3 linked regions of the Homo sapiens genome follow. The protein of the gene in region 2 binds, or shares a complex with, the protein of the main gene of each other region. Each region holds a gene or a part of one and is shown on either strand. Other genes may lie near its edges. The genes, in order: POLD2, POLD1 and POLD4.

Region 1 (9,211 bases), on a different chromosome or scaffold from region 2:
TGTACTTCGTAGCCCTAGGTGGCTAGTGGCATAAGACACAAAAATCTCAGCTCTCCTGGAGCTTATGGTCTAGTTGGAGCAGGCAGACAATACATTTAAAATATACAGTTTGTTAGAAGGTAAATGTTGTAAACAACAATAACAGTTGAAGTACTGGGGAGAGTTGCAGTTGTAAATCAGATGGGCAGGGCACAAGGTAACATTTGAGTAAAGATGTAAGAACTTGAAGGAGATGGGCAAGTGAGCTCTATAAGTATACGGGAGAGGGGCAAGCAAGAGTTCAGAGGCCCCTTGCTGTGGGGAGGGATCCAAGGTGGAGGAGTGGGAACCAGGAGGGGAGAGGACCAGTGGAGCAGATCTCATAGGCAGTTGTAAGGACTTGGGGCCTTATTCAATGAAATGAGGACACTTTGGAGAGTTTTGAACAGAGCAGTGACTGATTTATGTTTTGGTTTTGGTTTAGTTCTATTATTATTTAATAATAGGCTTATTATTTCACAGAAGTTTTATTTAATAAGGCAGACCTCTTGTCTGGAAATGAGACAGGTGCCGGAGAGCTGGATGGAGGCAGATCGGGAATTCCATTTGGGGCAAACTGAACTTGATTGAGACCCTGGTAGTTGTCCAGATGGAACAGGACACCTGAGTCTAGGGTTCGGGAAGAACTCCAGATGGGACAAACACTCCTAGCTTTCCTTTTCTCTTTTTGGATGACCGCTACAGGGTGAGACATCGGTATCCAGGCACGATAAATTTCCAAGTGGACACAATGTCTGGTGTCAACTACAGCTGTTCTCCTTCTTTTCCCAGTATCCTTTGGGTGCAGTGAGACACCAGGAGAGCTGCTGCTTTGGGGGATGGACAGGGGCAGCAGGAATGCCTTTGTGTTTTCGCAGTGAACCTCCTTGGCCTGGGCGAAGCTGTGTGGACCAAGCAAGTCAGGAGTGTGGCCATGTTTTCTGAGCAGGCTGCCCAGAGGGCCCACACTCTACTGTCCCCACCATCAGCCAACAATGCCACCTTTGCCCGGGTGCCAGTGGCAACCTACACCAACTCCTCACAACCCTTCCGGCTAGGAGAGCGCAGCTTTAGCCGGCAGTATGCCCACATTTATGCCACCCGCCTCATCCAAATGAGACCCTTCCTGGAGAACCGGGCCCAGCAGCACTGGGGTAAGTGAGAGTTTGGGAAGGTGCTTCCCCCACAGCATCCCTGAACTTAGAAGTGTTCTGCAAGAGAATGGGAACAGTTTATCTAATTGATCCCACTTCCTGTTACCTTGGGAAAATTAACCTCTTTTTCCCTCAGTTTCTTCTTAAGATAGTAACAAGGATTAAATTAAGTAATTTGTGGGTTTGGAGTTAGTTTTAGTTCAGAGGCTGGTTGGAGATGAGGACTTAGTTCTGGCGGTGATGGCGATTACTTCACTGGCAGAGGAAAATGGTTTTCCTATCTTCAGTGCAGATTATTCAGGTATTTGCCTGTGCTGTAGCCAGAGAGCCCCTCAGTGTGGCAAGCCTGGCGCCAGGCACCAGGAGCCAAGACTGGTGAGGATGCACTCTCTGGTCTCGAGGGGACCCCCTCTGTTCACTCATGTCTGTTTGCCTCTCCTCCTGGCCCCCATATTTGCTGGCCATGAATTTTCCTGTCCCTTGGGCCCTCTGTCTTTCCTAATAAAGTGGCCTGCCCAACACAACCCTTGTTCTTTGCCCCCATTTCTTCCCTGGTGATCTCTCCTGCAGTTGGATTACTCTTGGTGGTGAAGCAGGGACCCCCATCTCCCCCTTTGAGTTTATTTGAGTTTTAGGTGCTGCTGCATTCCCCCATTCCTACCACTTACATAAGAGTGGCTTTCCAGGTAATTTTCAAATCCATCTCCTATTATATTTTTAAACTGAGGATTTAGTAGGTGAGACCAGGTCTTACTCATTTTTACTGTCCTTGGCACCAGGCAAAATGGATCTCAGCCCTAGTTGCACATTGGAATCCCCTGGGGAGCTTTGAGAAGCCCATCTCATCCCATGCCAAGCCAAGATCAATTCTCGTTATAGGCAGGCAGGAGAACCCTGGGCCTAGAAATCTAGCTAGAACCTCAAATTCATTAGGGATATGTATTAGTCCATTTTCACATTGCTATAAAAAACTACCTGAGATAGGGTAATTTATAAAGAAAAGAGGTTTAATTGACTCACAGTTCCTCATGGCTGGGGAGGCCTCAGGAAACTTAACAATCATGGCAGAAGGTGAAGGGAAAGCAAGGCTCTTTTACATGATAGCAGGAGAGAGAGAGCAAGGGGAACTGCCAACCATTTTTAAACCATCAGATCGCATGATGGCTTGATCTCACTCACCATCACAAGAACAGCATGGGGGAAATCCACCCCCACAATCCAGTCACCTCCCACCAGGTCCCTCCGTCAACACCGTGTGGATTATAATTCCAGATGAGATGTGGGTGGGGACACAGAGCCAAATCATATCAGGATGTTTTCTGTTTTGTTTACCTGAGACAAAGTGCTGTTCACCTCTCCTCTCCCACATAATCAGGGGCTCCCTCCTGCGGCTCCGGTAGCTTTTCCTCACTTTCCTTTCAGCCCTCGGGACACCTTCCTTGGCTCCTTTCAGAGCTCAGTTACTACTTGGGCCCAATGTCAATGCCACCTTCTAGATTCTTTCCGGCAGCACCTCCTCTGGTCGCACATTTCTCTTCCAGTTATTGGAGCTGTCAAAAAAGCTCCCCAGTGATGGACGATAGCGATTTCACTGTGCTCACAGACTGGTCAGGAAACCAAACAGCTGCCACAGTGAATGTGTTGATAGCAGCGGGGCAGCAGTAGCACTCGCTCACAGGCCTGGTGGTTGGTGCTGGCCCCCACCCTGAATACCTACATGTGGCTTCTCCATGTGGCCTGTGCATCCTCACTGAAGCTCAGCCTGTCTCTCCAAATTGGTCTTTCCACTCACCTGTTCCCCAAACCTGCCCAGACCTTCCTGCTGTAGGCTTTTCCCTTCACTTGGCACACTCTTTCCCTTGTCTTCCCATGGCCCCATCTAAGCCCCACTGTCAGCTGAAGTGTTATATTCTTTGAGGGGCCACCTGAAGCCACCTTGCAATGAGGGCCTCCGTTTTCTACCTCAGCTCACCATTTGTTCACAGCACTTGTCACTGTGGCGAGTTACTTGTCTATGGCCTGTTGTCGTTCTCCTGCCTAGACCCAGTGGGCTGAGTGGGGGCAAGTGTTGGCTTTTATGTCCAGTTTTGATCTTGGTGCCAGCACATTGCCTGGGTGGAAGCATGTCCTACTATCGGTTACAGGGATGTCATTCTGCCCAGTGCTCAGGGGCATACACTTGGATCCCAGTTGTGTGCCCTTGGACACATTGCTTAACCTCTCTGTGCATCAGTTGGGTGATAATATCTACTCCTGGCACATTTTCAGCGTTGGCTGAGTTACATGTACAGTGCTTAGGCCACCTGGGGGAGAGTAAGAGTGGGATACGTGAGGATGTGGAGTCTGTTGCATTTCTGTCTGCTGCTGGCATCCTTCTTGTCTTGTTTTGAGTTGCTCGCCTCTGTCTGCTCCCTAGGGCGTAGATTTGAGGAATATTCCTGGTTCTTCCCAGGCAGCAGGGGCTCAGGCTGTGCTGGAGTCAGCTAGGCTAAGGGGCTGGTCTGGCATCCGCGTTGTCCTGTCACCTCCTTGGTGTTTTCTCCAGGCCTGGATCTGTGCTGTGTGGGCACCTGTATTCCTCCCTCCTGCCCTCACTGATTCTCCATACCTTTCTTCTCGAGAGTGCCAAGCCCCTCCCATGTGTTCTTGTTCATACCTAGGATCCCGGGAAGGGGCTGGGGAAGACGGTGCCCAGGTGCCCTGGGTAAACAAAGCCACCTGACTCCACGGGAATGGAATGGGTGGAGGGGATCTGAGGTCTGCATTTTGAGTATCTCTGGTCTCAGAGGATGAAGCATTTGGTGGGGGTTGGGGGTGGGGGGTAGGGTGGAAGAATCTAAAGTCTTAAAAGAAAATGGCAGTTATTTGTGGGACAGGGCTGTGTTGAGACTTGGCATGCTTCTTTTTAAGAGTCAGTGTTGTAATTTAGGTATAAGTGAAGCAGTACTTTGTATTAGTTTCCTGTAGGCGCTGTAACAAAGCACCACAAACTGGTTGACTTAAAACAACAGACATGGCCGGGCACGGTGGCTCACGACTGTAATCCCAGCACTTTGGGAGGCCGAGGCGGGCAGATCACAAGGTCAAGAGATTGAGACCATCCTGGCTAACACGGTGAAACCCTGTCTCTACTAAAAATACAAAAAAAAAAAAATTAGCTGGGCGTGGTGGCACACGCCTGTAGTCCCAGCTACTCGGGAGGCTGAGGCAGGAGAATGGCGTGAACCCGGGAGGCGGAGCTTGCAGTGAGCTGAGATCGCGCCACTGCACTCCAGCCTGGATGACAGCGAGACTCCGCCTCAAAACAAAAACAAAAACAGAAACAACAATAACAGAAAAACACAGACATTTACTCTCTGGCAGTTCTGGAGGCCAGAAGTTGAAATCCAGATGTCAGCAGGATTGGCTCCTTCTGAAGGCCCGAGGGGAGGGTCCTTCCTGGCCTCCTCCCTGGTGTTCCTGGGCTTGTGGCCGCATCACTCCGCTCTGCCCGTCTTCACACTCCCTCTTGTCTGTGTGTCTGTCTCTCTGTTCTCATGAGGACACTTGGCATCCAGGGCCCAACCACACCCAGAGTCCCTGGTCTCCTGTGGCTGACTCACTTTTTACTGTCACCGTGAAGTCCAGGGGGTCCTTGTACTTGATGTTCTCTCCTGGCAAGGCCAGGGCCCTGTGATTGGCCTCTCATGGAGTGCTGGGCAGGGCCTCCATGGCCTCTGTCGGGCGGGGGGGCTACTTCATCTCTGAGTCTGTACCCCTCGTGTCCCAGGCAGTGGAGTGGGAGTGAAGAAGCTGTGTGAACTGCAGCCTGAGGAGAAGTGCTGTGTGGTGGGCACTCTGTTCAAGGCCATGCCGCTGCAGCCCTCCATCCTGCGGGAGGTCAGCGAGGAGGTGAGGCAGGGTGCTACACAGTGGGGCCGCCAGGCAGACCTGGCCTCCCACTAGAACACCTCCCTGGAGGTGGGGTTGTGGGGAAGCAGGTTCAGAGACAATGGACTCCAGAGGGGTGGGGGCTGCGGTGCCAGCTCACTAACACCAGAGCTTTGGTGGGCTCTGGCCCCAAGATTATACCTCCTGTCTCTGCATTCCAGCACAACCTGCTCCCCCAGCCTCCTCGGAGTAAATACATACACCCAGATGACGAGCTGGTCTTGGAAGATGAACTGCAGCGTATCAAACTAAAAGGCACCATTGACGTGTCAAAGCTGGTTACGGGTAGGGAGCCCAATGAGAGGATGTGGGTGATGCAGGTGAAGAGCCCAGCGGTGGTGTGTTAGGGATGGTGTGAGTGGGGAGCCTGGGGGGAGTGGGGGGGTGTGGCCTGGGCACACGTGTGTTCTTGAGGAGGTAGGTGAGGCTCCAGGCGGTCGGAGGCCATCAGATTGGGTGAGACCTGGCTGGGAGATGGGTCTCCCCACCTCCATCCAAGGGCAGTGACTCCAGGAAGCAGGCATGCATCCTGGAGTCCTAGGTGAGAATTCACCAATGTGGTTGTGGAGAACTGGCTTGTTTTGCCCGTTGGGGTGACTGGAAGGAGTGGTAGCACCTGGGGCTCCCTGCTCAGGCCTGATGCCACTGCTCCCCAGGGACTGTCCTGGCTGTGTTTGGCTCCGTGAGAGACGACGGGAAGTTTCTGGTGGAGGACTATTGCTTTGCTGACCTTGCTCCCCAGAAGCCCGCACCCCCACTTGACACAGATAGGTGAGCAGCAGTTCTCGGGAGCTGGAACCAGCTCATGGTCAGTGGAATCTTTGAGTTGCACCTAGGAGGGGCTGCCTCCCTTCTCGGCACCCTGGAGGACCCCACCTTCTCCCGCAGGTTTGTGCTACTGGTGTCCGGCCTGGGCCTGGGTGGCGGTGGAGGCGAGAGCCTGCTGGGCACCCAGCTGCTGGTGGATGTGGTGACGGGGCAGCTTGGGGACGAAGGGGAGCAGTGCAGCGCCGCCCACGTCTCCCGGGTTATCCTCGCTGGCAACCTCCTCAGCCACAGCACCCAGAGCAGGGATTCTATCAATAAGGTATGGAGCCCACCTGGCTGCATTCAGCCCCAGCCCAGGAGCCTGCAAGCCTGTAAGACCCTCCTTCCCCAGGGCGAGTAGGGTACCCTGTGAGGTCTCGCAGGTCGGTGGGAAGCGCCCTGCAGTGACTCTGGGGCCTCCTGCAATGGGGCTCCTCATGCCCAGGCCCTCGCTGAGGATGGTGGGAGGCTTGAAGGGAGTGAGGGTCTATGGGACAACAACTGCATCTTCCAGCTGGTGGGGCTCTACTCTCCTCTGAGCCTGGGACTCGCCTGGGCCTGATGGCCTTCTGGGCTTCTATTCCAGGCCAAATACCTCACCAAGAAAACCCAGGCAGCCAGCGTGGAGGCTGTTAAGATGCTGGATGAGATCCTCCTGCAGCTGAGCGTGAGCGAGCTGGGGGCTGGAGGGGTGATGGGGATTGCAGTCTTCAAAGCTGCCACTGGGCAACAGAAGGCAGGCAGGAGGGCAGGGGGAGTGGCCGGAGTTGGTGTAGGGGGCTCCTTCGGGGCCCTGTGAGCTCTCCCTGCCCTGTGCCTTCCAGGCCTCAGTGCCCGTGGACGTGATGCCAGGCGAGTTTGATCCCACCAATTACACGCTCCCCCAGCAGCCCCTCCACCCCTGCATGTTCCCGCTGGCCACTGCCTACTCCACGCTCCAGCTGGTCACCAACCCCTACCAGGCCACCATTGATGGAGTCAGGTAGCTGGCACAGCCACACTTCAGTCTGACCCAGCCTTTTGCCTCAGGAGGCACAAAGAAGGGAGGGGAGGGAGGGCCCAGGAAGGTGGCAGGGCTGCAGAGGCCCACCTAGCATCTGTTCCTTCTCTCTGGGGCATCCCCACAAGAGCGCCAGATGAGCTCTGGGCTGACCACTATGGGTGGCACCCAAAGCCAAGAGTCAGCTGAGCTTTGCCTTGCAGATTTTTGGGGACATCAGGACAGAACGTGAGTGACATTTTCCGATACAGCAGCATGGAGGATCACTTGGAGATCCTGGAGTGGACCCTGCGGGTCCGTCACATCAGCCCCACAGCCCCTGACACTCTAGGTAACAGGCTCAGCCATACAGGGTGGGAGCAGAGGGCCAGGAGGCCTGGCAGGACCCTGAAGTGCACAGGGTCCCCCTGTGGGTTTGCACTTGCCAGCATTGCTGAGAACTGTCTGAGGAGAAGTTCAGAGGCTTGGCACCTGCTCTGGAAGCTACTCTGGAATCTTAATTCTAAGGCCAATGGCTGCCCACCCCAACGGGCAGCAACAGCAGGGCCAAGGTCTTGTGACAATGTCTGGAGGTGCCCCTATTGTCACACTGGGGGTCTCCTACTGGCCTGCAATGGGAGGAGGGGCTGCAGCCCCACATCCTGTGCAGAGTGCTAGTGCTGAGGCGGAACCCTCCTCAGAGCTGCCCCTTCTCCTCCAGGTTGTTACCCCTTCTACAAAACTGACCCGTTCATCTTCCCAGAGTGCCCGCATGTCTACTTTTGTGGCAACACCCCCAGCTTTGGCTCCAAAATCATCCGAGGTAATTTTTGTCTTCTGGGGGCCCAGGCTGATTTGCTGATTTGCTCTCACCTGGGGACAAGGTTCACAGAGAAGAAAACCTGCATTGTGGAGTCCCCCTGGCCCTTGTGGGATGGACAGCTGAGGTCTTCTGCACAGCTGCCATTTCACTGTGGGAGCCAAGCTGCCTCGCCAGCTGGGCAGGGACTGGAACGGCTCCCAGCCTGTGTGCCTCTCAAGGCTAATCTCTGGTCTCCTATTGTCACTGCCCCACTGTGTGCCAATGGGGACTCCTGTTTATTTCTGGCAGCTTCTCTTTGAGGCAGGACTTACTTGGAACCTACAGTGGGTCCTATGTGACTTCTTTGCAGGTCCTGAGGACCAGACAGTGCTGTTGGTGACTGTCCCTGACTTCAGTGCCACGCAGACCGCCTGCCTTGTGAACCTGCGCAGCCTGGCCTGCCAGCCCATCAGCTTCTCGGGCTTCGGGGCAGAGGACGATGACCTGGGAGGCCTGGGGCTGGGCCCCTGACTCAAAAAAGTGGTTTTGACCAGAGAGGCCCAGATGGAGGCTGTTCATTCCCTGCAGTGTCGGCATTGTAAATAAAGCCTGAGCACTTGCTGATGCGAGCCTTGAGCCCTGGGCACTCTGGCTATGGGACTCCTGCAGGGGTGCCCACAGTGACCATAGCCCATGCACCCACCAGCCGGTCTCCCTCCTCCCCATCCCTGACACCTCAGAATGTGAGCAGTCCGTGCCATGAGCTTGTTTTATTGGAGTGACCTTGGCTCCCTCCCTCTGCCCCTACTCCAACACTGCAGCAACCCCATCTCTTACGAGACTGGCAGGTGGAGCAGGAGCCTCTACACAGCCTCTGGCTCTTAGGTCCCAGTCATGTTTGCACCCCCTCAAAGGGGCAGGACCAGCCCTTCCTTTCAGTGTCCATACCAGGGGCCTTCCATGTGCTGATGGGTGATGTGACTGTGGTCAGCAGGCTTGGGAAGTGCTGCTGCTGTAGCTTGAGTTGGGCTGGGGTCTTGGTAGGACGCTGATCTCAGAAGTCCCCAAAGTTCACTGTGTAGGTCTCTACTGTTGTGAAGGGGAATGCCTGGCCAGTGGCTATCTCCTCCTCTTTCTCCTCCTCCTCCTCTTCCTCAAACTCGGGTTCCAGCTGGGTCTCAAACTCAGGCTCCAACTGGGTCTCAAACTCGGGCTCCACCTTGGTCCCAAACTCGGGCTCCACCTCGGTCCCAAACTCTGTCACCACCTCTGTGTAGGTCTCAGTCTCCGACTCCTCCCAGCCAGCGGTGGTTGGCGGTATGAGGCCCCAGGGCTCTATGGTAGTGCTCAGGGTGGTGGCAGGGGCAGGGGGCAGCGTGGGAGGCACAGTGTGGGGGCCTAGGGTGGTGGTGGCGTTGAGGCGCCGCAGCCGCATCTGTGCCCGAAGCCGCAGGCGGTGTTGTAGGCGTCGCTGCTGCAGGCGTCGCTGTTGGGGGGTCATAGGGCGCGATGGGTCTATGT
Region 2 (10,007 bases):
GCAAGGAGGCAGGGATGAGGGAGCAGTGTGAGTGCAGCGGGAGGGGGCGGTGCCGGCCTGGCCCCCCGCCTAGCCCTGGGGTTCTGCTGAGGCCTGCATCCCCCTACAGGCGTCCTTTCTGAAGAACAGATCCGGAAGAAGAAGATTCGGAAACAGCAGCAGGAGTCACAGTCACAGTCGCAGTCACCTGTGGGGCCGCAGGGCAGCAGCAGCTCAGCCTCTGGGCCTGGGGCTTCCCCTGGTGGATCTGAGGCAGGCAGCCAGGGCTCCGGGGAAGGCGAGGGTGTCCAGCTAACAGCGGCTCAAGAACTAATGATCCAGCAGTTGGTGGCGGCCCAACTGCAGTGCAACAAACGCTCCTTCTCCGACCAGCCCAAAGTCACGGTACTGCCCCCTCCACAACCTTGAGTGTGACGGTCCCAATGGGGTAGAGCCAGCTGGGCCATCACCCAGGGTGTGGGAGAATGAGGCTCCAGAGGGCAGGGGCTTTGGGAAGAGGATCCCCCAGGGTGCAGGCTTGGCCTCAAGGTGGCCACCCAGACTTAGGCTCACAAAGACCTGGGAGTGACCCTGGTCTCCTGTGTCCCAGCCCTGGCCCCTGGGCGCAGACCCCCAGTCCCGAGATGCCCGCCAGCAACGCTTTGCCCACTTCACGGAGCTGGCCATCATCTCAGTCCAGGAGATCGTGGACTTCGCTAAGCAAGTGCCTGGTTTCCTGCAGCTGGGCCGGGAGGACCAGATCGCCCTCCTGAAGGCATCCACTATCGAGGTAATGGTCCATCTGCCCACAAGGAACCCCAGAGATAGCTCCAGGACAGATGCTGGGAGCAGAGTTAAGGAAGACCAGTGCTTGCCGTTGTAGGATGACATTCCACGGCGAATAGAGTCTTCTATGAGCCAAGGAGAGAAAGGAAAAAGGGTCTGAGGCTGAGAAAATTGAGGATCAGGCTAGAGGCGCTATTGCAGAGAAAAGTTGCCAAAAAGGCTTTTCAGAGGAGTTAGCATTTGAATCAAAGTAGGGATAACATATAAGTATTGAGCACGTGCTGTATGCCAGGCTCTATTCCAAGTGTTGGCATATGGGGCAAAGAACAAAGCAGATCAAACCCCGTGCCCCAAACCTTGTGCTCACCTGGGGAAAGAGTATCCTAAGGAGATGGGGATGCAGCATGTGCGGAAGCCTGAAGTGGAGAAAGAGCTCGGGCTGTCTCACGTGATGGCTGCACGCTGGTGTGGCTGAGAGAACAGGGGGGAAGGGGACAAGGGATAATCCTGGTGAGATTAGACCCCCATTTGGGCCAGGAGGGGAGGGACTAGCAGCTGAAGGGTCACAGGGCTCAAGCTCCCCCTCCCGCTGCCGCCCTTAGATCATGCTGCTAGAGACAGCCAGGCGCTACAACCACGAGACAGAGTGTATCACCTTCTTGAAGGACTTCACCTACAGCAAGGACGACTTCCACCGTGCAGGTAGGGCCCAGGGGAGGCTTCGGGGAGGCTTGGCGCCCCTGCTGGCTGGAAGACCTGGGGCCAACTCATCCCTGTTGGAGTCTCTGTTTCTTTATCTCCAAAGTTGGGGTGAGGGTTGAGCCAAGGTGAGAGTGAGGTAAGAGTGCATGTGCCACGTGTGGTGGTGCACGCCAATAGTCCCAGCCACTCGAGGCTGAGGAGGGCAGATTGCTTGAGGCTATAGTGAGCCGTGATTGTGCGACGGCATTCCAGCCTGGTGACAGAGAAGACCGTGTCTCTATTTTTTAAAAAAAGCATGTATTGAGTGCCGACTCTGTACATTGGGTTGCAGTGGAAGTTGAGATGGGAGGAGCCCTGTTACCACATCAGGCATCTTGGTGGGCATTAGGAAAAGCATTCCCCGCCCCCGCCAAAACGTGGTCTCACCCAAGGGAGGCGGGCTGGAGCTCGGTCCATTGTGAAGCGGGCAGCCTTCTTTACTGTCTAGGGGAGCACTGCTTCCTGCCCTCTGAGAGCGCTAACCTGCGTGGGTGGGCTTCTGGAAGAAGGCCTGGGCAGTGAGAGGCACTGCCTAGGAAAAGGGTGGGAGGAGCATTGCTAGTGCTGCAGAGCATGCACCAGGGCCTCGCTCCCTCATTGTCCCACAATCTCTGGGGGACCTCTCTGTATTTCCCGACATCTGTCCAAACCCCACCCTCTCCCCTTCCTCTTACTCCGGCCCTTTCACCACCCGAGACGGTCCCAGTAACCCTTTTAGTATGAGCTTAGCAGGGCAGGGCTGCAGGGAAGCGTTTCTGGCAGAGGAGATTGGCGATTGCAGAGGCCCTGAGGTTGGGGAGAGCTGGTGGTTTGGAGGAACTACAGGGAGGCCCAGGCAGCTGGAGCACAAGGAGATGGGGTGGAGAGGAGGTCGGGAATCCCACCCTACCCCTTCCCAGCCGCTCCTCTGCCACCACCCTGGAACACTGCCAGGGTCCCCTTGAGGGGCCGCCTGCCTCCACCCCTGCCTGATGGGGCTGCTCACAGCACAGGCAGAAGGGTCCTGTCAGCACTTAAGGCTGCCCACTTCCCTCCTCCGCTCAGAACCCTCCGCGGCTCCCGTCTCACTGGGAGAAGAGCTAGAGTCCTCTCTGTGGCCCACAAAGCCCTTTAGGACCTGGCCTCGCTCACTCTCTGCCCTCAGCTCTCACCCTCTCCCCCTGTTCCAGCCACTCTGGCCTCTTACTGGCACCCATCCAGCATGCTGCAGCCAAGGGCCTGTGTACTTGGAGTTTCCTCTGCCCAGAACTAGGGGGACCAACTGGTCCTAGTTTGCCCAGGACCTTCCCAGTTTTAACACTGAAAGTCTCATGGCCTGGGTAGCCCCCGTCCCAAGTCATGGGAACAGCAGACGTTGGTCACCCTCACAATCCCTCATCTCCTTCGGATTGGTCACTGCTCCAGCGTCACCCAGAGCGCAGCCTTCCCTGCCCGCCTTGTGTAAAATAGAACCATGGCTCAGCAGGGCCCTTCACACTTCTCTGCACTGCCTGGTTCCATTGAACTCACAGCCCTCTGACAGGCTGGGCCTCTTCCTAATGTGTTTGTCTATGACCGGTCCCCTAGGCTCTCAAATGTAAGTGCTGGAGCCTGGCACGTGGCAGGTACTCAGTGACATTTGATGACTGAATGAACAAGTCAGTTTTGGGAATGAGTTTGGGCTTTACCTTGAGCAGTGGAAGCCAGCGCTGGGACCAGCACGATGTGACCTAGGTTTTAAAAGCTTCCCTTTGCCTTTGTGAAGGGGACAAGAATAGGGACTCGGGAAGCTGCAGCCACCGCCCAGGTGGGAAGGGAGGGTGGTGATAGGATAGTAGAAAATACTGAAGAAACATGCACCCTCATTCATTCCTTCACTGGGCAGCATGTGTGGCACACCTACTACATGCCAGCACTCATGGGCACGGGGCACAGGTGGACAGAAATGACAAGAACGCTGTAATTACTGCTGTGTTCCCAGCCCCAGAGACTGTGGGCAGCGCCAGGGTCCAGGATGTGGGGCACGGTTTCGGGCTGAGGGAGTCACGGGCTGCCTCCCGCCCCGCAGGCCTGCAGGTGGAGTTCATCAACCCCATCTTCGAGTTCTCGCGGGCCATGCGGCGGCTGGGCCTGGACGACGCTGAGTACGCCCTGCTCATCGCCATCAACATCTTCTCGGCCGACCGGCCCAACGTGCAGGAGCCGGGCCGCGTGGAGGCGTTGCAGCAGCCCTACGTGGAGGCGCTGCTGTCCTACACGCGCATCAAGAGGCCGCAGGTAGGGCCCCGCAGAGCCTCTGCGCAGAGCCAACTACGTCCCGCGGCCCACGTGGTCCGTTCAGGCTGGGTTCTGCCAGCCACACTGCCCTCCCCTCCGCAGAGTCTTTCCTCAGGCCCCACCCTGCTCGACTGGGAGCCAGGTCTAGTCCAAGCACAGAGGCGGGCCCCACGCTGGCTCCCACGCCTGGTCGGGGAGGGGCCCTCCTTTCTGTTGGGGTGGGCCTCCCAAAGCCTGGCAGGGCAGGGGCTCAGCCAGCGCCCACCTGCCTCCTCCCTCAGGACCAGCTGCGCTTCCCGCGCATGCTCATGAAGCTGGTGAGCCTGCGCACGCTGAGCTCTGTGCACTCGGAGCAGGTCTTCGCCTTGCGGCTCCAGGACAAGAAGCTGCCGCCTCTGCTGTCGGAGATCTGGGACGTCCACGAGTGAGGGGCTGGCCACCCAGCCCCACAGCCTTGCCTGACCACCCTCCAGCAGATAGACGCCGGCACCCCTTCCTCTTCCTAGGGTGGAAGGGGCCCTGGGCCGAGCCTGTAGACCTATCGGCTCTCATCCCTTGGGATAAGCCCCAGTCCAGGTCCAGGAGGCTCCCTCCCTGCCCAGCGAGTCTTCCAGAAGGGGTGAAAGGGTTGCAGGTCCCGACCACTGACCCTTCCCGGCTGCCCTCCCTCCCCAGCTTACACCTCAAGCCCAGCACGCAGTGCACCTTGAACAGAGGGAGGGGAGGACCCATGGCTCTCCCCCCTAGCCCGGGAGACCAGGGCCTTCCTCTTCCTCTGCTTTTATTTAATAAAAACTAAAAACAGAAACAGGAAAATAAAATATGAATACAATCCAGCCCGGAGCTGGAGTGCAAGATGGAGAGGGCGCGGGCTTCTAGGGACCTCAGTGACACTGGGTGCCCGAACCTGATTGAGCAGGTGGGACTGGGTGTCCCCAGGCTGTTGGGAAAAGGGTGGCACATAGGGTCCCAGTGTTGGGTGGTGTGTCGCCTGCTGTGAAAGTTCAGGACAGAGGCCTCAGCCTCAGGGTCACCTCCCTGGACAAGGTGAATCAGAACTCACCCTTGAAGGATAAACAGGATTTAAGTGAATGAGGGGACCTGGACTTCTGTCCGAACAACAAGTGTTTGCTGAGGCCTCCTGTGGGCCAGGCACTGGGTTGGCCATTCTAGAGATGGAGACATTCACCCAATAAATGTTTCCAGAGCATTAACTACAGTTAGGCACAATTCTAGGCACTGGAAACATCTGTGAACAAGATAACCATCCTCCTACCAAGACTCGGGGGATAGGGACTTTAATGAGCGTGGCACTGTGGTGGGGCTAGAGGAAATCAGGGAAGGTATCACAACAGAGGCAATCGCTGGGACCTAAAACAAGAGCCTGGGGGCTGGGCCTCCAAGTTGAGGGAACAGCACGTGCAAAGTTTGAAAGGAGAGACGCCAGGAGTTCGGAGCGAAGCGACGAAGTTCCTCCAATCCTTCCTGCCCCTGTGCCAGCCCTGAAGGAGCTGAATGAGCAATTCCAATCGAGGGCGAAAGGGGGGTTGGATGGAGGGATGCAACTTAAAGGTGTATTTATTTGGGGCGGGGAACAGCGGAAGTGAGAGTAGTTACCAATGATCACCTTATCCTAAGAGTAGTGTACCGGGCGCCCCACAAGTGTCCCTATCATGCGTTGTTGAGTCTAATTTACGTATAGGGAAACTGAAGCTAGGATGAAGGAGAACAGATCAAGCCAGGACTCTACCGCTTATCGGCCAGCCTCTGCGGGGATCTTGGGCGTCAGGTCACCAGCTGGCTGCTGGGCAGCGACGGGGCAGCGCTCCCTACACGGCCCCGGGCGAGAGGCGGGCGGGGGGACGCGGAGGATGCGCGCGCAACACCCGAGGGTGGGAGGAGAGAGAACAGAACCGCGGCGCGCCCAGACCGCACGAGGTCGTGAAGGTAGCCGCGCGGAGGGGCGTGGCTTCGGGCAGACAGGTCATGGGGAGGCGGAGTTAAGGGAATTTTTCAGCAAGGGGGCGAGGCCACTTCGGAAGCTGAGAGAGGGGGCGGGGCCTGCCCTGCAGTCGAACAAGCGGGGCGTGGCCTTGCCCGCACTTGGGCAGGCGGGGGCGTGGCCCGTCTCTGAGCGCCGCGGCTCTGGGCTTGCGCGCGCGGGAGTCAGGGGTCACGGCGGCGTAGGCTGTGGCGGGAAACGCTGTTTGAAGCGGGTGAGTAGAGGGGAAAAAGGGAGTTCGGGGCAGTGGGCCTGGTAGGGAACGGGGCTTGAGCAGCCAGGCACATAGATCTGAGAGACGGTTGCGAGGGCACCCTTTGGCCCGGGGGCGCGCAGGAGAGGGCAGGGGCCAGGGGTTTCCTGGGCGAGGGCGCGGGGACGAGCAGGAAAAGGCCGGGGTGGGGGTGGAATTCCTCGGCGGGCAGGGGGCGCATGCGCCGGGCACCGTGGGGCGGGACGTGGCCCGGGAGGAGCTGGGGGGACTGGGTGGTGCACGTGCGGGCTTGGTGTCATCCTGGATTCGCTGGGTGTTTGAGTACTCTGTGCCAGGCACTTTTCTGGAAGCAGGAACAAGTCAGAGAAGTCCCTGTCTCGGGAAGACAGACGGTAGACAAGTGATGAGTTTTAATAGATCAGTAAAGCAGTGCTCTGGGGCTGTGAGATGCTCTCAGAAGGAAACTAACGCAGGGTAACGTGATAATGAGCGAAGAGCCTGTTGCTTTAGCTGGAGTGGTCCAGAATCGACCGCTCTGGGACCCTCAAGTGCAAAGCCCTGAGGTGGAAGGAGCTTGGCGTATTTGTAGCAGGAGCCGAGGGGACGAGAGAAACACAGATGAGGTCGGAGTCATGATGGGGAACTAGATCCTATAGGGCCTTGTAAAACTTGGTATGGAATTTCTCCTTTATTCTAGGTTCAGCGGGGAGCCGTGGGAGGGTTTGAGCGTGGAAACAACACGATTCGCCCCATGTTTTGAAAAACTCACCACTGAGTGGAAATTGGATTGTAGCAGGAATAAGAATGGAAGGAGGGAGATCTGTTAGGAGGGAGAGCGTCCTGCAGGCAGAGAATCAGGCTCCGGTTACCTTTGCGGGCGGAGACAGGGGGACTGGCTGATGGACTGGGCGTAGGAGCAAGGGGAAGAGTCCAGGATGACTCCTGGGTTTGTGGTTTGAGCAGCAGGCTGGATGGGGAAGGCTAAGGGAGAAGCAGGTTGGGGTTGCCGCTCTGAAGGCAAAGATTAGTGGGGGAGTGAGTGGGCAGGGTTTAGAGCGGAGCCAGGAGTGGGCAGGGCGATGTCAGTGCCTCGCCTCAGCCCTTCCACTGAAGGAACTTGTTGCCACTGTCTTCTCTTTTTTTTTTTTTTTTTTTTGAGACAGAGTCTTGCTCTGTCACCCAGGCTGGAATGCAGTGGTGCAAACTCAGCTCATTGCAACCTCCGCCTCCCGAGTTCAGGCGAGTCTCGTGCCTCAGCCTCCTGAGTAGCTGGGATTACGGCACCCACTGCCATGCCCAGCTCATTTTTTGTATTTTTAGTAGAGATGGGGTTTCGCCGTGTTGGCCAGGCTGGTCTCGAACTCCTGACCTCAGGTGATCCACTTGCCTCGGCCTCCCAAAGTGCTGGGATTACAGGCGTGAGCCACCACGCACGGCCGCTTCTCCTCCTTCCTGCACTTCCCCCCCACAGGTCTCTCTTCCCCCTAGAGAGGTTCCTTCCCTCCCCCTGAAATGCTCTTCCCTCTCTTATGTGTTTCTGACAGCTGCTGTTTGGACAGGCCCTCTGCTGAGCACTGGGGAGCCAATGATCATTCAGTTTGGTTGGGGAAGGACAGGAGATTTCAGTCCAGAGTGCGCTGAGCTATGGCGGAGCAGTGATAGTCTTTGGGAGCCAAGAGAAGAACCTGTGCGCTCAGGGAAGACTCACCAGAGTGGTTGATATTCACAGGGAGTTTCAACTCACATGTCTTTTTTTTTTTGGTTTTTGAGACAGGGTCTTGCTCTGTCGCCCAGGCTGGAGTGCAGTGGCGCGATCTCGGCTCACTAACCTCCACCTCCCGGGTTCAAGCGATTCTCATGCCTCAGGCTTCCGAGTAGCTGGGATTACAGGTGTGTGCCACCACGCCCAGCTAATTTTTGTATTTTTAGTAGAGACAGGGTTTTGTCATGTTGCCCAGACTGGTCTCGAATCCCTGACCTCAAGTAATCCTCCCACCTCGGCCTCCCAAAGTGCTGGGATTACAGGTGTGAGCCACCACACCCGGCCTAAACTCATGTCTTGAAGTAACCGGACACTGTGCAGAGTGATGCTGGAGACCCCAACTTGGGCAAGATGCTGACTCCTTTTCTCAAGGAGCTCACAGGCTGAAAGGATCCCAGCTCTGCATTGTGCAATAACGAAAGTGGCACAAGGCGTTGTGGGAACCCTGAAGGGCAGCTGGTCAGCTTGGAGGAGCTAAGCCTGAGCTGAGTCTCTGGATGCAGTGGAGTTTCATGCAGCGAACACTGCCTAAGGCCTCCTGGGGGCCCACCCTGTGCTGGGTGATGCTAAGGTCCCAGAGGAGAGTCAGTCCTTGCTCTGCCATCCAGAGGTCCCTGGCTGGTAAGGGAGGAAGACACACACCCAGGCAGTCCAGAGACAGCAGTCACAGAGGCCTAGGGGAAGGACAAGGCCGAAAGCATGCAGGTGAGCCTGGGCAACATAGCAAGACCCTGTCTCTACAAAAAATACAAAAGCTAGGCCGGGCGCGGTGGCTAAGGCCTGTAATCCCAGCACTTTGGGAGGCCGAGGCGGGCAGATCATGAGGTCAGGAGACCAAGACCATCCTGGCTAACACGGTGAAACCCCGTCTCTACTAAAAATACAAAAAATTAGCCGGGCGTGGTGGTGGGCGCCTGTAATCCCAGCACTTTGGGAGGCCGAGGTGGACGGATCACTTGAGGTGAGGAGTTTGAGACCAGTCTGGCAGACATGGTGAAACTCTACTAAAAATACACAACTAGCTGGACATGGTGGGCGCCTGTAATCCCAGCTACCTGCGAGGCTGAGGCAGGAGAATCACTTGAGTCCAGGAGGCGGAGGTTGCAGTGAGCAAGATCCTTTCCCAAAAAAATATATAAATAAAAATAAAGCTGTGAGATTGGGCAAGATTGGATGAGGTCATTGAGGAAATGAGTGTCTCACTCATCGAGAAAACTGGTGTCTGGCCTGCAGCGAGCACGTGGTGTCATTTTGTTGCTGAATCTCTGTTAAGTGCTTGCTACCGAAGGGTCGTGAGAGGGGCAGAGGACAGTGTTTGCCAAGCTCTCATCCTGTGCCAGGGCCAATGAGAGGGGACACACAGGGGCCTTTCCTTCCTAATGCTGCTGTGCCTCCACTAACAAGAGCCCAGGTTTTGCCCCTGGTGACACCGTCCCTCCCACCGCACCCCCGCAGCCACAGCCAACTGACCAAGGGCAGCCAGTCAGCTCCTTCCTTCCTCCTCCAGCTTCAGCACTGACTCTGGGCTCCCACAAGCCCCTGCGCTTCCTCTGTCCCACCCGGGTCTCTCCTCGCAGATCATCACTCCCTGTCCCTCTCTGGCTACTTGCACAACCCGAAGCCAGAGCCGCTAACGACGCTTGCTTCTTCCTGTAAGTCACACATGTACGCGGTTGTCACCCAAAGAGCACAAACGCAGTCAAAGTCTTCCTCACACAAAACCCCCTGCACACGCTCACGGCTGCACCACTCACAAAAGGTGGAAGCAACCCTAATGTCCATCCACTGATGAAGGGATACGTCAGACGTGTTCTAGCCATACAGCGGAAAAGTACTCAGCAAAAAAGGGACACAGCACTGACGAAAGGCCGCCACACACATGAGCGATGAACACATTCAGAGAAAGCAGCCAGACACAAGAGGCTGCATATTCCAAGATCCCATTTATAGGAAATGCCCAGAATAGGCAGATCCATGGAGACAGAAAGTTAGATGAGTGGCTGCCAGGGGTGGGGGCAGATGGGCTGAATGCAGGGAGAGAGCTAAAGGATTTAGGCTTTTTGGGGTGATGAGAGAGTTCTAAAATTGACTGTGGTGATGGTTGCCTAACTCTGAACATACTAAATACCATTGAACTATATATACTTTAAATGGGTGAATTGTATAGTATGTGAATTATAGCTCAATAAAGCAGTTAGCAAATGAAGTCTTCTACCCTGTCCCCCAGGAAACCAGTTTCTTAGCTCTCCTTATAGAATGATGCATTA
Region 3 (10,404 bases), on a different chromosome or scaffold from region 2:
CTGAGGCAGGAGGATCGCTTGAGCCTGGGAGGTCGAGGCTGCAGTAAACTGTGATCACACCACTGCACTCCAGCCTAGGTGAAGGAAGGAGCTGATCAACAGTCTCAGATGCCCCAGAGGAGCTCAAGAAGAATGCTGAGCAAAATCCAGTGGCTTTGGCAATCAGGAAGTCTCAGGCAACCTTTGTGAAACAGCAGGTGAGAGGCAGCCACCGAGTTGTGAGATTAATGAAGGCCATGGTGGGCAGAAGTAGAAGGGGTAAATCAAGTCCCTCAGAGTTTGCTGGTTAAGAGACCAGGCGCAGCAGCTTGCACCTGTAATCCCAGCACTTTGGGAGGCCAAGGAGGGCGGATCACTTAAGGTCAGGAGTTTGAGACCAGCCTGGCCAACATGGCCATCTCTACTAAAACTATAAAAATTAGCCAGGCCTGGTGGTGCATGCCTATAATCCCAGCTACTCAGGAGGCTAAGGCAGGAGAATCGCTTGAACCTGGGAGGTGGAGGCTGCAGTGAGCCAAGATCCCACCACTGCACTCCAGCCTGGGCGACAAGAGCGAGACTGTCTCAAAAAACACACAAACAAAAAAACACCATCTAGAAAGGTTAGCAAGATCACAGAAGGCTTTTGTTTGTTTTGTTGTTGTTGTTGTTAAATAGAAGTGATCTAAACATGTTATTGCTGAGTGAGTAGGGGGCGGGTGGAGAAAAATGGGGAGGTTTAGAGAATGGAATAAGGAGACAACCACAGGAGAGCCAAAGGGTGTCTGGGCAGCCAAATAGAACCCGGTGATATCAGCAGGCACCTTTGCCGTGGACCTGTCACCATGGGCAGTGACATTCCTTAGCATTTCAGAGGGAGGGACAGACTGGAGAAGAGGGCATTTTCCAAGGCTGAGGATTGGCAAGGCAAGAATGGCAGAGAATCAAGGGGGATTCTAGGCTGCTGGAAACTACTGGAAATTGGCTGGGAGCCAGAGCCAGGCAGTAAGGGAAGAGTGGTCAGTGGAGGGAAACAGAGGAGGGGAATAGGCTGGGAGAAGAATCCTGAATGGGGAGCGCTGGGGTTCCTGCATGCTGAGGACGCAGAACGCTCCCACAGTGGCGGTGGCGTGGTGGAGGGAGAGGGGGATGAGAGCACCATCAGAGAGGGCACTTCAGAGTGTGAGTTCTTGAACTCTCTCAAATAGCCCCTAATGATGGTGACAGGGGATGTGAGCTGCTCGTTTGTGTTTTGGCACTGTGTCCCACAGGCATCTTGTGAAAATGCCAGCACCACAGCACAGGGAGCACCTGGTAGATCACAGGGCACTGGCGTTTTCTGTGAGTGAGTCATTGGTTTTCCATCCAGAGCTGCTTCAGGAGATCCAATGAGTTTTGTTGGTTATCGAGGTTCTACCTCCTAAGAATGGCTTCAGAGTCAGAGGCCCAGAGGCTAACATGAGACTCTAAGGCATTGCAATGTCAAAGGGTGGAGGGTGTGTTATCTCTAGTATTCCTCATGTCCCCACAAGGATCGGGAGAGTGGGCAAGAGAAGACCCTCCTCTCCATCATCTCCAGATAGAATGTAAGGATTAGAAATCTTGTCATCATCTTGAGTGCTTAGAAACACACCTATGTTTGAAAGAATGAGCATAAAATGGAGAACTATCACTTGAGGCAGGGGCAACCTCTGGGGGAAGTGGGGCTAGAGGAGGCTCTGATGGGAGATGGCACAATACTCAGATCTTGCCAGTTTTCCACTTTTGCAAAGACTGACCTACCGTCCAAGACTTACAGGCCGCCTCATGATATGAGAGGCTCATTCAAGCACTGAGTTTACACACACATGCACACACACACTCTCACTTGCCACAGCCACCCTAAATGGGGAAGGGCAAAGGGAGGCCCTCTGTTCCCCTTAACCTAGAGGGCAAGGGCTAGTGACTCAGTCCTGGCTGGGCACTCCGATGGGCAGCTCCCTCTCAGCTTCCCCTTCTGCTGTGGAGCTACAACTGTCCCTGCCTTTGTTCCTTCAATTCTCAAGCTCCCTGACTCAGCCTCGTTCCTGAACTTCCCAGCAGGGGACAAAGCCCTTGTCAGTGGGGTGGTGTGGGGGCAGTGGCAGTGAGGGGGATCTGGGGGAAAGCTGTAGAGTCAGAGTTCCAGTCCTTTTCCCAGTCTCAACCTTCAGGGTCCCTCAGCCTTGCCAGTTCAGTGGTCACCTCTAGGCTCCTCCCCAACTTGCCCAGATCTCTCTCTGAGGCCAGACTGATGGGGTGGAAATGGTTAACTAGAACCTTCCTCCCACCCAGCTGGGCAAAGTCTGACACCTGGTGGCCAAGGTGAGTAATGGCCAGAAGGCCCCTTTTCAAGTCTTCCCGGAACTGCTCCAGAGCCTGGATGGCCAAGGTGAAAGAGGAGGTGACTAGAGAAGAAGGTGTGGAGGGTGGTAGGAGCAGGACAGAAGATGCAGTGGTAGAAAAACCCAGAGACCCCATCCTTTCCACTCAAGCTGCTGCGATGGAAGCACATTAGGCCAGAGAACCTGGACCAGGGGAAGAGGGAGTGTCTGGGAAGGCAGTGAGGGACTAGGAAGGACTGCCTGAAAGAATTCTGGCCCACAGGGTGAGGAATGGGGCCCACGGTGTGTGAGTATGTTGGGGGCCGGGGCCAGGGGTATTCTGGCTGCCCAGAATCTCCTGAGTGGGACTGACTTTCAGCTCAGGGTGGGTGGCAGGGCCCAAGGGCCTGAGGAAGGGGGGTACTGGCGAGAGGGAAGAAGAGCTGGATCCACCCCACAGCCCACTGGGTCCCAGGCAGCTGCTCCCCTCTCTCCACCTGCCTCCAGCTTCCCAGCTCTACCTGGCTCTCCCCACAAACCTCATGGTGAGGTGGGGGAAGGGAATGCAGGTGCAGTGCTGAGGCCCCCATTCTACCACATTGTCTGAGCTAAGCCAGACCTAATCCTTCCCTTGAGTGCAGTCAGCGGTGGGCCTCAGCCCCTGGGAAGGTGCCGGGTTCCTGTTTCAGTTCTTTTCTCTCCTGGACCCCCAGGACTCTGGGCTTGGCCCTGAAGCAAGGGTCTTGGGTATTGTTACCAGGCTGAGGTGCAAAGGTCACTCCTACTAGTCTCATCACCAGCCTCTGGGTGTCGGGGCTGACACAAGGGTCTCAGGACATTCCCCCAGGGAGAGAGAACTCAGCACCCAACCCAGAACTCTGGCCTGGCCATCCAGTCTGAAGCCTGAACAGGCTCCAAGACAGCAGTTTAGGGAATGAGGCCAGGATGCTGCCTGAGTAGGTGAAGGGGTTCTAGGCAAGAAGGTACAGAAGGTGGATGGGGTTGGACAGCAAAGAAGGAAAAGACCTGAGGACAGGAAGGTCAAGGTCCAGCCTAGTCCTCAGCGCACCTTAGGGATTCAGGTGCTGAGTCAGGGCATGCCAGTTGGACAGGGATGGTTCCAAAATCCCTGGGTGCCAACTCTTTCCTAGGGGCTCCACCCTACTGCCATCTAAGAGAGAGCAGCAATGCTGCCTGCAGAGAGTTCCCTCAACTCCAAGGCAGAAAGCCAGGCCTAGGGTGCCTGCACTTGAGCTGACCACTCTGAATCTTTTTCTTGGGTGTGGGGGTAGCTGAAGCCTGAGGGAGACATCTTCCAGCCTGGGTTGGGGCCTGTGCCAGGCAAAGCTGGGGAAGCTGGCAGGGACAGCCCAGCCAACATCTACAGAGCAGCTCAGGATGCCAGAGGCTGCCCAAGGAGAAAAGGCAATAGGCCCAGGCGGTGGTAGGAGCTACTGTGGCTGCCCAGCGGCACACCCCATTTCACGCTCCCTGGGCGGTGGCAGGGCCCCACGGCTATCAGCTTTCAGGGGTGGGAGGGACTGGGAATGAGGAGGGGTCTGCCCCACCCATGGCTCCCTACTCCCTCAGGGCTTGGTGGACTCAGGAGGTGGGTGCCACACACCTCTGGAAACAGCCCAGGAACCCTTGCCAAGACCCTCTGGGGAGGGGTAGTCAATCCCCCAGAGCCTAGACGCCATCCCTACCTAGCATGCTCAGCACCTGACTGGACTCAGCACCTAGGCCCTTCCCAGCCCTGGTAGACAGGGCCTCCCTGCTTCCATCACTAACTCCGCAGGGACACTGTCTCCCTGAATGTGGGCCCCACTTAGTCCGCAAGGCAGATGGGGGGATTAGACTAGGCCCAGCCCAAACAATACAGCAGAAAGGGCCCTCCAGCTCCATGCAGTGCCCCCACAAGCTCCCTCCTCTAGGACGCCGATGGGGAGAGCCAGGCAGGACGTGGACCCTGAAGACATGGCCTGCTCCTCTGCCTCCCCTCTGGTGGTCTCCTTTCCAGAGCAGCTTCCTCCCTTGTGCCCACGTGTACCAGTGGCTTAGCCCTCTTCCAGTGCAGAACACCCAGACCCCAGAGCAGGGAAAGGAGGAGGCAGAGGCCTCTGAGCAGGCAGCAGCCCAGGAGTCTGTGCCCCACCCTCCCAGTATCCCTGGAAGGAAGAACCGGATGGGATCTCTGGAGGGTGATTAGAGCTGGGCTGGTCCCTGTGCTGGTTCCCAGACTCCCACTGGCCAGTACTTTTGCCTCCTGCCAGGAAGTTGGTGAGGGGGAGGCAGCAGTATGGGTGAGTCAGTGATGACAGGAGCCCAAGGGACAAAGGTCATGGGTGGAGAATTGAGAGACATTGTTTACAGCAGTCCACCTCCTCCAGGAGGCCTTCCAATGCTAATCATCCCTGTGGTCCTAACCAATCTCTGACCCACCCTTTCCCTCTTCTGGTAGGAATTATAGCCTCTCACTGACAACTGTGCATCTGTCTGCCTTGTGACAGTGAGCTCCTGGGGTGCAAGAGAGACTGTGGTTTGATTGGGGCCCTACAATGCCTGTGACTATCAGCAGTGATAATCATTTAGCTATACTTCCTACTTTCAAAAACTTTTTGACATCTATTTTAATTAACATGTGGGAAAGTGCTTAGAACAGTACTTGGCACATGGTACGTGCAATGAGTGTTAGGTTTATTATTAATATTTTCTGCTCAGACTCACATTATTGTGAGAGACAGGGCAGATTTTGCCAGTGAAGAACTAGGGATCCAAACACATTGTGGTGGGGGGACCAGACCCTTGCTCTGCCTTCCTACTCAGTATGGAATCTTCCTGACTGGTGGGGCGGGCCGGACACGACTTGGGACCCCAGGAGAGTCAAAACGGCAAACACTTACTCGGACTAAGAGTGGGCAGCATCTTTGGGCACAGACTGTGAGAAAGGAGGTTTCAGAACCCATGGGCTTCTCCAGCCAGGTCTCCTGGGGCCAGTGGGGGTTGGGTGGGAGCCGGGAAGGGGCCTGGATTAGCCCAAACTCTCTTCAGACCTCCAGACCTGCCCCCACAAGGCGGGGCGGGCCAAAGGACCGAGTGAAGGCTCCAGCTGGACTCTAGGGAGTTACAAACTGGCCACGGGGATTAGCGAAGCTGAAAAGAACATTTGCCTAGGAAGGGAAAACGGGAAGTGAGAGGCTGAAGATAACTCTCCTGAAGTCTCTCGGGACCCACAGCAGACCAATGGGGGCCGGGGAAGGTGGTGAAGTCGGGGCATCCCGACAGGTCCCCCGCCCCAGCCTGCCCCTCCTCCCGCGGCCCACAGCTGAGGCACCGCCCCGCCCCTCACCCTACACTGCCTACCATTGGCTAGCGCCAGGGCCCCGCCCCGCATAGGCGGCCTGCCATTGGCTGAAGTCTTTCCTGTTTGCGTGCTTTTGGGGGTGGGGGAGGCGTCCCTCCCTGGACCCCGGCGACTTCCTCTCTCGGTTTGTCTGGGTCATCTTGTCTGCCCGCCGCTGGCCTGGCCCCGTCTGTCTCTCTCAGCAGCTGTCTTTCTCGCGCCCACTGGCCGGTCTCTCCTCTTCCCCGCAGTTGCCTCCTTCTCTGCCTGCCTGGGTGGCCGCCATGGGCCGGAAGCGGCTCATCACTGATTCCTACCCGGTTGTGAAGAGGAGGGAGGGGCCCGCTGGGCACAGCAAGGGGGAGCTGGCACCCGAGCTAGGTCTCTGAGGTGTGAGGGAGGCAGGAGGAGTGGACACGGAGGGGCCTAGAGGAGGCCCCTAGAGGGGCGGAGGGGCCGATGGAAAGGGAAAGGTGGCCTGTCCTCCCCTCCCGACACCAGGTCTAGCTGCGGGGTGGCAGAGGCAAAGCGGTGGTGAGGAAGGCTGGGAGGTGAGGGGCAGGAGACTGAAGCCAACCTCGTACTGAAGAGCAGCTGTCATTGCAGGGGAGGAGCCCCAGCCCCGCGACGAGGAGGAAGCGGAGCTGGAGCTGCTGAGGCAGTTTGACCTGGCCTGGCAGTACGGGCCCTGCACCGGTGAGAACCCACCCAGCCCCACGGAGGCGCCTCTCCCAGCCAGTCACCCACACGTCTCTGAAGTCACCCAAGCGCTTGCGTGACTCTGACCCTCAGGAACTGTCTCCCCCCAACACACACATTCTCCAGCTCAGACTCTACCCCACCCCCCACAAGTCTCCAGAGTCTTCTTCCCACCCTGGCAGGGATCACACGGCTGCAGCGCTGGTGTCGGGCCAAGCAGATGGGCTTGGAGCCTCCCCCAGAGGTGTGGCAGGTGCTGAAGACCCACCCCGGAGACCCCCGCTTCCAGTGCAGGTCAGAGACAGGCCGGGAGGGCTTTCAGGGGAGCCAGGGCCTTCTCCAGGCACTGTCACCCTGCTGTCCTGACCTGAGGGAGAAATGGATGGAGGGTTGGAAGGCCTTGCTGAACAGGCAAGAAGATTCTATGAGGTGCCTGGCTCAGGAGGACACGCCACTATAATAATTCTTTTTTTTTGAGACAGAGTCTTGCTCTGTTGCCCAGGCTGGAGTGCAGTGGCGCGATCTCGGCTCACTGCAAACTCCGCCTCTCGGGTTCACGCCATTCTCCTGTCTCAGCCTCCCAAGTAGCTGGGACTACAGGCGCCCGCCAACACGCCCGGCTAATTTTTTCTATTTTTAGTAGAGACAGGGTTTCACCGTGTTAGCCAGGATGGTCTTGATCTCCTGACCTCGTGATCCCACCCACCTCAGCCTCCCAAAGTGCTGGGATTACAGGCGTGAGCCACCACACCCGGCCAATAATTCTTACCTCTACAAGCTAGTGGGGGGCAAAGGTACACCCAGGACCCAAGGAACTATCTATTTAGAACTGAGGGGTTTCCCAAGGACTATGGGCATGGCCAAGAATAAGCTGGTGAAATCAGATCCAGGGACTCAACAACTGATTCTCTGTTTCTCTCTCTCTCTCTCTGGGGTATCCCTCCCTCCCACCCCATCTTCCACAGTCTCTGGCATCTCTATCCCCTATGAGGCACCACGTAAGACCTCCTGCCCTTAGCTCTCTTGCTCACCACCCAAGAACCTCAGGACAGAAGCGAGAGCCCATTGCTCCTGCTCAGCTCAGCCCGGCTGCGGAGGAACCCTTGGCAGGCAGAACCTGGAGGTGTCAGAGGCTCAACTCCTCCATCTAACCAGCAGGCTCCCAGAGTCCCCGGAAGAGCCTGCGCAGCTGAAGCAGAGTGCTTCTAGATGGAGAGTGGTCACTGGGGAAAAGGACCTGGCCATCACCTTCCAATACCTGCTGCCTGTCTCCCTGACCCATGATCTGGCAAGTTAGGCACAGTCAGACATGGACAGTTGATCCATGAGGAAAAGATGCTCTCCCACCTAAGGCCAGGAATCTGAGAGCAGGACTGGCTGAGCTCCCAGGGCAAGGGGTTCACTAATGCTTATCAATAAAGAATATTGAGCCTGGAATCCTGACCTTCAGTCCTTTACTGTGGCCCTGCTTTGACTGGCAGTCCCTAGCAAGTTAGGAGATGAGAGAGGCACCACTACAGCTCTTTTCCTTCAAGAAAGTCCTAGGCCGAAGAGGGAGGAGACAGTCATCTTGAGACGGATCAAGTCCTCGGAAGAGCTGAGCGACCTCTGGTGCCCCCTGGTGGCCCACAGGGAAACTACTCATGACTCACCTTCTGGAGCAGCCAGGGAAAACCTACCTGACTAGCCAGCCACCTGCCTTGCTAAGCGGTGCCCACCTCACAAACATGGGTGCTTTGCCAGAGAAGGACCCCTGGGGTCCATAGCTCATGAAGTCCAAACATATCTATACATTCCCAGCAAGCACCTCTGGCTTCCCACATCGGGGGCCACCTTGATCCAAAGCAGGGCTGGCGAGGGTCTCAACTTGCAGGACCTGCTCAGACATGACCATCATCTGAGGGGCTTTGGTAAGAAACTGATGGCTGGGCGCGGTGGCTCACACCTGTAATCCCAGCACTTTGGGAGGCCAAGGAGGGCGGATCACGAGGTCAAGAGATCGAGACCATCCTGGCTAACATGGTGAAACCCCATCTCTACTAAAAATACAAAAAATTAGCCAGGTGTAGTCCCAGCTACTCAGGAGGCTGAGGCAGGAGAATGGCGTGAACCCGGGAGGCAGAGCTGGCAGTGAGCTGAGACCGCATCACTGCACTCCAGCCTGGGTGACAGAGAGAGACCCCGTCTCAAAAAATAAAAAAATACAAAATAAAGGCTGGGCGCAGTGGCTCACGCCCGTAATCCCAGCACTTTGGGAGGCCGAGGGAGGTGGATCAGGAGGTCAGGAGATCGAGACCATCCTGGCTAACATAGTGAAACCCCGTCTCTACTAAAAATACAAAAAAACTTAGCCAGGCCTGGTGGCGGGCACCTGTAGTCCCAGCTACTTGGGAGGCTGAGGCAGGAGAATGGCGTGAACCCGGGAGGCGGAGCTTGCAGTGAGCCGAGATCGCGCCACTGCACTCCAGCCTGGGCGACTGAGCAAGACTCCATCTCAAAAAAAAAAAAAAAAAAAAGAAAGAAAAAAGAAACTGATGGTGCTGGGGGATGGAGGAGAACTGGCTGGAGCCAGAAACAATGCCCAGGGGACCCAGGGTCAGGGTATGACATGGAGAATAGAGTCAGTAACCGCTTCTATAGTGTTACCTTCATCTACTGTGGCAGCCCTCTATCCTGGGGGTAGATGGAGGCAGCACTAGTAAGTTCTTGGAAACAGGCCTAGAGGGCAGCTAAGTGGCCTGTGTAGCCCCCGTCTGAGCACTGATCATGTCTCAGGTACTTTAAATGTATTACCTCGAATCCTCCTAAAAAACCTTCCAGGTAGGTTTTACTGAGGGGGAACTGAAACTAAGAAAGGTTAAGTAAAGTTGCCCAAAAGCACACAGCAGGCAAGAGGCAGTGCAGTGACCAGGGGCCACTTGCATTAACCTCTTCCAGACTATGCCATACCTCCTGCCCAGCTGCTAAGCACTCACTATGTGCCAGGCACCAAAGGTCCCCTTGGGGTATTACTAATGGTCAGGAGATGGGCAAAAACAAACACGTAAGTTAATTATGACAGGTAGCAGTCAGTAGTAAGCAAAATCAGAGTTGGGATCAGAAAGGGTCCAAGGATGCCAGGGGCGCTATGTTAGAGAGACTGGTCAGGGAAGGCCCTCTGCTAAGGTGGCATTTGAGCAGAGACTTGAAGGAAGGAAGGGAGCAAGGTCTGCATCTGAGGGTTCCAGGCAGAAGGAGCAACAAGGAGAAGCTTCCTGAGGAAGGAGTGTTTCCAGCCTGCTCCAGGAAAGGCACTGAGGAGGCCAGTGAGGCTGGGGGCCAGGGAGTGAGGAAGGGTAGTGGGAATTGAGGGCAGACAGGCAGCGGGCTGGTCCCTAGGGCCATGATAAGAAACTGGATTTGATTCTGAGTGAGAGGGGAGGATACTGGAGGGCTTGAAGCCAATAAATGACAGAGTCAAGCTTATGTTTCGAAAACATTACTCTGTTGGTGGAAAACAAGATTGTGGAGCTGGGGAAAACAGAGGTAGCAAAACCACTCAGGAGGCTACTGAAGTTGGCCTCATGAGAGCTGAGGGTGATCTGGACCAGCGTGGGGAGGTGGACTGCTCAGAAGTGGCCAGGTACGCTCTGTATTTTTAAGGAAGAGCTGACTGGCAGGACTTGCCTATTGGTCGACTGTGGGATTTAAGAGGGAGGAGCCAAGGATAACTCCAAAGGTTTTGGTTTGGGCGACTGGAAGGACAGAGTTCTCATTACTAAGATGGGAAGACTTGTGGGAAGGGTGGGGCAGGAATCTGGAGCTCCATCTTAGACATGCTGAAGTATCTGTGCCACTTCCAAAGGGACATGGGGTATAGGCAGTGGATATGTAAGTCTCGGATTCTGAGGCATTCTAGGTTTAAAATATAAACTTGGGAATCTTTTAGATGGCCTTGAAAGCTCCAACAGTGGATGAGATCCCCAGAGTGAGTGTAGAGAGAGAAGTGATCTGAGAGATCCAGTAGCGAGGGAACCTGAGGTTACCGGAGATGAGGAGGCA

What was found.
Region 1: POLD1 (region 2) and POLD2 share a complex: the UniProt entries of both Homo sapiens proteins name them as parts of the tetrameric DNA polymerase delta complex.
Region 3: POLD1 (region 2) and POLD4 share a complex: the UniProt entries of both Homo sapiens proteins name them as parts of the tetrameric DNA polymerase delta complex.

The regions. Positions count from the first base shown.
Region 1 is NC_000007.14:44,113,795-44,123,005, reverse strand, and holds the end of POLD2 (DNA polymerase delta subunit 2), read left to right. Parts: exon of another isoform or gene 1-119; intron 120-546; exon of another isoform or gene 547-896; coding exon of another isoform or gene 897-952; coding exon 953-1,172; intron 1,173-4,941; coding exon 4,942-5,063; intron 5,064-5,263; coding exon 5,264-5,387; intron 5,388-5,758; coding exon 5,759-5,873; intron 5,874-5,990; coding exon 5,991-6,189; intron 6,190-6,495; coding exon 6,496-6,576; intron 6,577-6,733; coding exon 6,734-6,891; intron 6,892-7,112; coding exon 7,113-7,240; intron 7,241-7,609; coding exon 7,610-7,711; intron 7,712-8,060; coding exon 8,061-8,221; 3' UTR 8,222-8,326; downstream 8,327-9,211. Other genes in the region: AEBP1 (adipocyte enhancer-binding protein 1 precursor), read right to left, coding at 8,745-9,211. UniProt on the Homo sapiens protein: Accessory component of both the DNA polymerase delta complex and the DNA polymerase zeta complex.
Region 2 is NC_000019.10:50,378,413-50,388,419, forward strand, and holds the start of POLD1 (DNA polymerase delta catalytic subunit), read left to right. Parts: upstream 1-5,934; 5' UTR 5,935-5,978; intron 5,979-7,522; exon of another isoform or gene 7,523-8,445; intron 8,446-9,247; exon of another isoform or gene 9,248-9,392; intron 9,393-10,007. Other genes in the region: NR1H2 (oxysterols receptor LXR-beta), read left to right, coding at 1-27, 110-384, 590-769, 1,368-1,467, 3,554-3,762, 4,044-4,190. UniProt on the Homo sapiens protein: As the catalytic component of the trimeric (Pol-delta3 complex) and tetrameric DNA polymerase delta complexes (Pol-delta4 complex), plays a crucial role in high fidelity genome replication, including in lagging strand synthesis, and repair.
Region 3 is NC_000011.10:67,348,944-67,359,347, reverse strand, and holds POLD4 (DNA polymerase delta subunit 4), read left to right. Parts: upstream 1-5,801; 5' UTR 5,802-5,948; coding exon 5,949-6,045; exon of another isoform or gene 6,046-6,054; intron 6,055-6,270; coding exon 6,271-6,360; intron 6,361-6,545; coding exon 6,546-6,657; intron 6,658-7,328; coding exon 7,329-7,353; coding exon of another isoform or gene 7,354-7,381; 3' UTR 7,382-8,576; downstream 8,577-10,404. UniProt on the Homo sapiens protein: As a component of the tetrameric DNA polymerase delta complex (Pol-delta4), plays a role in high fidelity genome replication and repair.